Linked DNA regions of Homo sapiens. The gene in region 2 interacts genetically with the main gene of each other region. Each region holds a gene or a part of one and is shown on either strand. Other genes may lie near its edges. The genes, in order: DEPDC5 and DAZAP1.

Region 1 (2,574 bases), on a different chromosome or scaffold from region 2:
GCCATGTTTTGGTGAGCATGGTGTTGTAGGCCCAGTTGTAGCCGACCCGCTCCTCGCAGAACATGTTCTGGTTGGTGGAGCTGGTGGAGTTCCGCCGCCGCCGCTGCTGCCCTGAGAACTTGCGCTTGGAGTAGGGCAGCTGCAGAAACACTGTTCCTGAAGAGAAAGGGGAGCGCCTGTGTGGCAGCCACCAGGAGGGCTCCTGGAGCCTGCTGAGGTGGTTCTGCAGCCATAGGCTTGGTGCAAGGAAAGGGATGTGGACCCACCTGCCCAACTCTGCCCGTAGCTCCTCACCTGTAACGTGGATATACTGAGGCTTGTTCTCAGCAGGGAAGTTAAAAGCAGAGGCAGAATATTTATCTTGTACAAACCCAAACCTAGGGAAGGACAGGAAGACATGCTAATCAGCGCCTCCTTAGTTAAAGGGGCAAGGGAAGAGAATGTAGCTGATAGGACTCTCGGACAGCCTGAGACACAGAGATCTGGAAAGATCTCTTTCCAGATTGCACATGCAGGCTGCTTATTTTTGTCCTCACCCTCACCACTTTCTGACCTCTACCTCTTCCAACACCATGGCTTACCAGACCTCCTCACACCCAGCAGCCCGTCATCTCCGTGGTCCACCATGTCACTACCACCATAGTGAAAGAAAGCCTTCCCACCGGCTGCACTCTTCATCCAGCCTTCATCTCTGCTCAGACAGCCCGTCCCTCCTACCATGTTCCCTACCCATCCCAGCAGACCTTCCCACTGAGCGTTCTCCCCCATCCCATCCTGGGCCTCTCACTGGAATCTACCTCATGTCTTGACAGGCCACACATACCCACCCGCATACTCGAGGCTATCCATTCCTCCAGGGAAGGTCCTTATCTTTTTTTTTGGTGAGAGGGAATCTCGCACTGTTGCCCAGACTGGAGTGCAATGGCATGATCTCGGCTCACTGCAACCTCTGCCTCCTGGGTTCAAGTGATTCTCCGCCTCAGTCTCCTGAGTAGCTGGGATTACAGGCATGTGCCACCATGCCTGGCTAATTTTTGTATTAGCCAGGATTGTTCTGGAATTAGCCAGGAGAATCACTTGAATCCGGGAGGCGGAGGCTGCAGTGAGCTAAGATCATGCCATTGCACTCCAGCCTGGGTGACAGGGCGAGACTCCATCTCAAAAAGAAAAAAAAAGAGGAACGCCAAGCTGGGGCTCTCTGCTTCCCTGTGCTCTGGAAATGGGCAGGAGGAGCCATTTTTCATCTATGGCTTGTTCTATTCCTGGTTTTTCTATTTCCATAAGGCACATTTATTACAGTTCTACCTGCTAAGAGCTGTAAAGGACGTGGTAACAGATGTGGCTCCTGCCCTCTAAGTCTGAGGGGTTTATATAATGGAGACAGTGATGTAGGCAGAACTAAAGAAGGGAAAATGCCTGTCTTCTTTCCTGGACTGAGTTCCTTGGGGAGGTGCTGTGTTGTATCCTCTACATAATCTGCATTCCATAATTTTTTACCAAAGAATACATGAAGTCAAATATGCAAACTAAATGGGTAGGCTACTATGCACTGTAAGCTCCCTGTCTACAGGCTGATTATATGATGAGGATTGGCTCTGGATTTTGCCTTTGCAAAATCCTCTCTACTCTTGCTCTGTCATCCAGGCTGGACTGCAGTGGTACAATCTTGGCTCACCGCAACCTCCACCTCCCGGGTTCAAGCAATTCTTGTGCTTCCAGCCTCCCAAGTAGCTAGGATTACAGGCACGCGCCACCATGACCAGTTAATTTTTGTATTTTTAGTAGAGACGGGGTTTCACCATTTTGGCCAGGCTGGTCTTGAACTGCTGACCTCAGGTGATCCGCCTGCTTCGGCCTCCCAAACTGCTGGGATTACAGGCGTGAGCCACCACACCCAGCCTGCTTTCTCTCTACTTTCTAATTAAGGCTACTGATTTCCTCAGCATGGATCAGCCTGATTTTTTTTTACCAGAGTAATTTTTTTTTACCTCATTTCTTCCTTAGGTCACCAGGAAAGAACAAAAAGGCAATTTAACCACATGGTTCCTGGCCACCTGACTGTCCACTCAGGGAGAATGCAAGACAGAAACGCAGTAAGGGCAGGGGAGGGGATATAATCATCTCCACCTGCCCCAAGGAAGATGAAGGAGGAGCTGTAGGTCACAGCCTAGGGGCTGAGGAAGATGAAGGAGGAGCGGTAGGTCACAGCCTAGGGGCTGAGGAAGATGAAGGAGGAGCTGTAGGTCACAGCCTAGGGGCTGAGGAAGATGAAGGAGGAGCTGTAGGTCACAGCCTAGGGGCTGAGGAAGATGGACACTTTTTTAGCTCTTTCTGAGATGGACCTTATGGGTGGGCTGATGTGTCATTTAGAGCCACAGTTGCACTTAAAGCTCCACCCTATGCAAAAGCTACATATGAAACTACTCTAGGCAGGCACCTTGCTAGGCATTATAGAAGGAAACACAAATAGGAAAAAGCATACCCCTGCCCTCCAAGGGCCCCCAAGTCACTGGAATACATTCAGAGTGTTTTGAAAGAAAGGGAAAGAGGAATTCAGAGAGGAAACATTTGGGA
Region 2 (3,817 bases):
AAGCAATCTTCATACTGTGTTCGCTCAGCAGCCCGGGGCCCTTCCTCTCTAGACGTGTCAGGAGCCACAGTCTTCTCAGGAGGAGGGTGCGGGGCCGGGGACAATGGATGGAGCAGGCCTGACCTACTTATTCTAGGCGCAGTGGCTGACCTTCCTTTAATGCCTGCTTGAAAATATGGGTGGACTAACAACAGAAAGATCCCCCCAATTCCGGGGCTGCCTCAGCATTTGAGAATCCTGAATTTGTCTCACTTTTCTGATAAATCGTAATGAGAATAAAGAGACAATGGATCCACCTGGAGTCAGCCTTGGGGTCTCAGTCTGGAGAGCTGCACATCCTGAGTTCAGAATCCCTCAGTTCTGCCTGTTAGAGAACAGACAGCAGCAGCCACAGAGGCACAAAGCCCCCACCTGCCCAATGCCCCAAGGACCGGCCTATGATGGGAACAGGATCCGTTAGCTCAAGGCAATGTGACAGCAGGACCAAGGGACCCATTTCAAAGAACTCAAATGAGCGAGTCTTCACACACCCTCCTCAGGGGACTGCGGTTCCTGCTTACAAAGCAGAGCGGTCCTTGTACTTTAAAAAAACAAAAACAAAAAAAAATTCTTTCACCCTTTCCTACCTGAATGCAGCAATGCAGTCGCCTGGCATGGAGGGTTAACTACCACGCGGTACCAAACACTCCACAAACGGAAAACCCCCATGAGGGGCCGGCGGCGACGCCAAGTGCCGCTCCAGCCAACCAGTGAAGGCCGGCGCCGGGCAAGCTGGACTCCAACGACTGTCTGGCTTGGAAGGCGAGACCCACACTGAGGTCGCCCAGCTCAGGAGCTCGCGCAGAACAGTCATGGCTGGGGGGACCCAGGGGCTGCCCAGGGACGGCAGCAGGTGTGTGCACTGTACAGAGCTCTTTCTGCCCCGTATATCAAGACCACGCTTTCCCCAAATTGTCAGTGTCGTAGTCCCTTAAAACACTGGGCGCAGACTCCTTGAAGCCCTGCTTGTACTGTCGCGCACCCATGCAGCCGGCAGGCTCATTTTAAACCACAAGCTGCACTCGATGTCAGAACAAGGATTGTGTCTCCTGTTTTAGTTGGGTTCAAATGGAATTAATGAAGTCTGCAACCCAATCTAAGCCACGTGTATACAAAAATAACTACACATGCTACTGTTTTTAAAAAAGTTCTGCTATCAAGACCTCTGGCTGGGGTAGAGGGCAGGGGCAGGAGATAATGAGCACGATGCTCCCTCCAGGACATTTTAATTGAAAAAACAACCATGGCCCTGTCAGAGGGGCTAAGCGTCTTCTTCCGTTAACGGGAGAAGCTGCCGCACCAAGGAGGCCGGGTCAGAATCCCACTGGGCATGTGAGGCGGCCTGGCAGAGCCAGCAGAGCTCCTTGGTTTGAAAGGACCAAGACAGGAATCCTGCAAAAACCTGGACCCCTAAGCTTTTGCTAACTGCAAGAAATTCCACACTGTAGAATTTCTACCAGTTATTTATTTCAGAGTCCACTTCTCAAGAACCTCCAAGGGTCCAGGTAAAACAAGGATTTAGGGACCCCTTTCTGACACATGCCTTCCAAGGGCTGGCCTGGGGGTTGGGGGGGTGGCCTCCTGTCCCTCTCACCTCCGGGGGTAACACAGTATGAAGATGACACAACCAGAGGTCACTTGACTGCATGGTGGCTGAGTACTACCGAGAGCATGTGGCTGGTGCCGGAGTTCCACAGTAAGTGACCCAATTCAAACAACCAGTCCTTCATGATGTTTCCACTGTGCTTTCCATTTTAAGCGGAACCTCGGCTCTCAAAGGTCCCTTGCTGATCACATTACAGGTCAGTGTCAGACAATGGGGATTTGCAGACATCTGAAGGAGTGGTCGTGGAAACCAAGCCTGAGGCAACGCTGCGGTTTCACTGGAGCCAGCCCCAACACCGCCACAGCCTCCCAGCCCCAGCCCCCTACCCGCCCAGTCCCAGGTCACCCAGAGGGAGGGGCTCCAGGAGCAAAGCTGAGAGATCCCCACCCCGCAGGAAGGGTGCTGGGGAAGGATGGGACCCTCCTCACGTCTACAGACCCAGGCCCACCTCACGCAGCAAAGGTTCACAGGACGAACTCGCCCGACCCTTTCCGTGAAGGAATGTTCCTTTCCAGTGAAACCCCTAAGTTGCCTAAGACTTGGTTTGGTCTTAAGGTAAAATAAAACTACAACTACACACTTTTTTGCCCATGATGTCGTGAAAATGCATGTTGACAGCCTGGTCCACTGATTGTTCGTCCTCGAAAGTAATAAATCCAAAACCTAGCCAACGACGAAGAGTGAATCAAGGTAGCAGGGTGTTGTGACACAAAACAGGATGATGAACAGTATTAGGGACGGGCCGAGGGATCGACCTTGGGTTTCAGCTAAGCTGTGTGTGGGGCGCTGCGGGCCCCTGGGGCAGCTGCCTCCCTCCCCAGGAGCCACCACTCGACTGCACACGGAGTGGACAGACGGTGACGTCCGCACTCCCGGTGACGGCTCTGCTGACTGAGGCCTGAGTCAAGCCTCCGCCCCAGACACCCCGGGCTGGGGCTCCGTGTCACAAAGATTTGGAACAAGGAGCACATCTTATAAAACAGCAGCGGAGACAGGGGAACGGTGAGGGCCTCCATCGCTACTGGCAGACAAAGCGCCCCCCAGGGGAGGGTCAGAGGCCCGTGCTTGAATATTCTGGCTCTCGCCTGTGGGGAGATTGCCAGTGAACCCTGCAGGCCGGGGGCCCGCGTGGAATGCGCCATCTTAGTCAGGGGTGTGCACCGTGGATGTGTGTATGCTTCTCTGAAACCCAGGATTCTCCCCCTTGGCTTGCAATTTGCTTTGCAGCTAGTGCTGACAGCAGCCATATATCGTTCTAAAGCGTTAACAGATACAGTATCTATCATAGCTGGTGCCTCGCTAGGCTTACGCAACACCGTTGGGTAAGCCCAAGGAGTCCTAGAAGAGGTCATATCGTAGACATCTATGCATGTTCTATACAGGTAGAGAAACAATGCACAAAGATACAGGCCACAACGGGTTCCAGCAGGTCAGACTCTGCTGCCAGCAGCAAGAGCGAGATGCACCATGGGATCAAAACAGAAAATTTTAAAGGCAAAAAAAATTTAGCATTTCCCAAACACAAGAGTGGCAGTATAAACGAAGTTTAGTGGGTCTGGGGTGGGCGCGGCCCCCGGCTAACGGGGCGGGTCTCCTCCTCTAGGCGCAGGAGTGCGCCGGGCTCTCCAGGCCTCCCCGGCTAGGTGGAGCGTGACACCGCAAAGCACACCGTCCTCCCGAGGCGGGGCCCAGGCGGCACCAGCCCCTCCCCAGATGGAAGTGCCCGGCAGACAGCTGCCCAAGACCTCACAGAACAAAGATGGACATGGGAAGAGCTGAGACCGGGCTGAAGATGGGCTGCCCGCGCCAGAGGCACAGGGTGCGTGACAAGGCACCACACAGCAGGGGACAGCGCAGCACGGGCGTGAGGCGTGAACGAGCGCGGCAGAGAAGGGCCGTGGGGGGTGGGAACAGGCAACGGCCCCCGGAAGGAGCAGCCTACTGTGGGGCCTCTCAAGCTGAAGAGACAGGGGCCAGGGCTGCTGTAGCTGGGACCAGGCAGAAACAGGACAAGCAAAACTGGGGGCGGGGAAAGATGGAAACGGGGCAGAAAGGGCAGCTCAGACTGTGAGGGGACAAAGGTCACTGTGGTTCAGGAGCCTCCCACCGTCCTGAGCACACGTGTGCACCTGAGCGTGACTGTGCACGCAGTGTCTGCAACCAGACGGAGGG

What was found.
Region 1: changes in DAZAP1 (region 2) and DEPDC5 together harm fitness more than expected from each alone (negative genetic interaction), as found in Homo sapiens cells (one large-scale study listed by BioGRID).

What each region holds. Positions count from the first base shown.
Region 1 is NC_000022.11:31,903,787-31,906,360, reverse strand, and holds part of DEPDC5 (GATOR1 complex protein DEPDC5), read right to left. Parts: intron 378-2,574; coding exon 295-377; intron 157-294; coding exon 1-156. UniProt on the Homo sapiens protein: As a component of the GATOR1 complex functions as an inhibitor of the amino acid-sensing branch of the mTORC1 pathway.
Region 2 is NC_000019.10:1,424,369-1,428,185, reverse strand, and holds part of DAZAP1 (DAZ-associated protein 1), read right to left. Parts: intron 2,309-3,817; coding exon 2,226-2,308; coding exon of another isoform or gene 2,225-2,225; intron 1-2,224. UniProt on the Homo sapiens protein: RNA-binding protein, which may be required during spermatogenesis.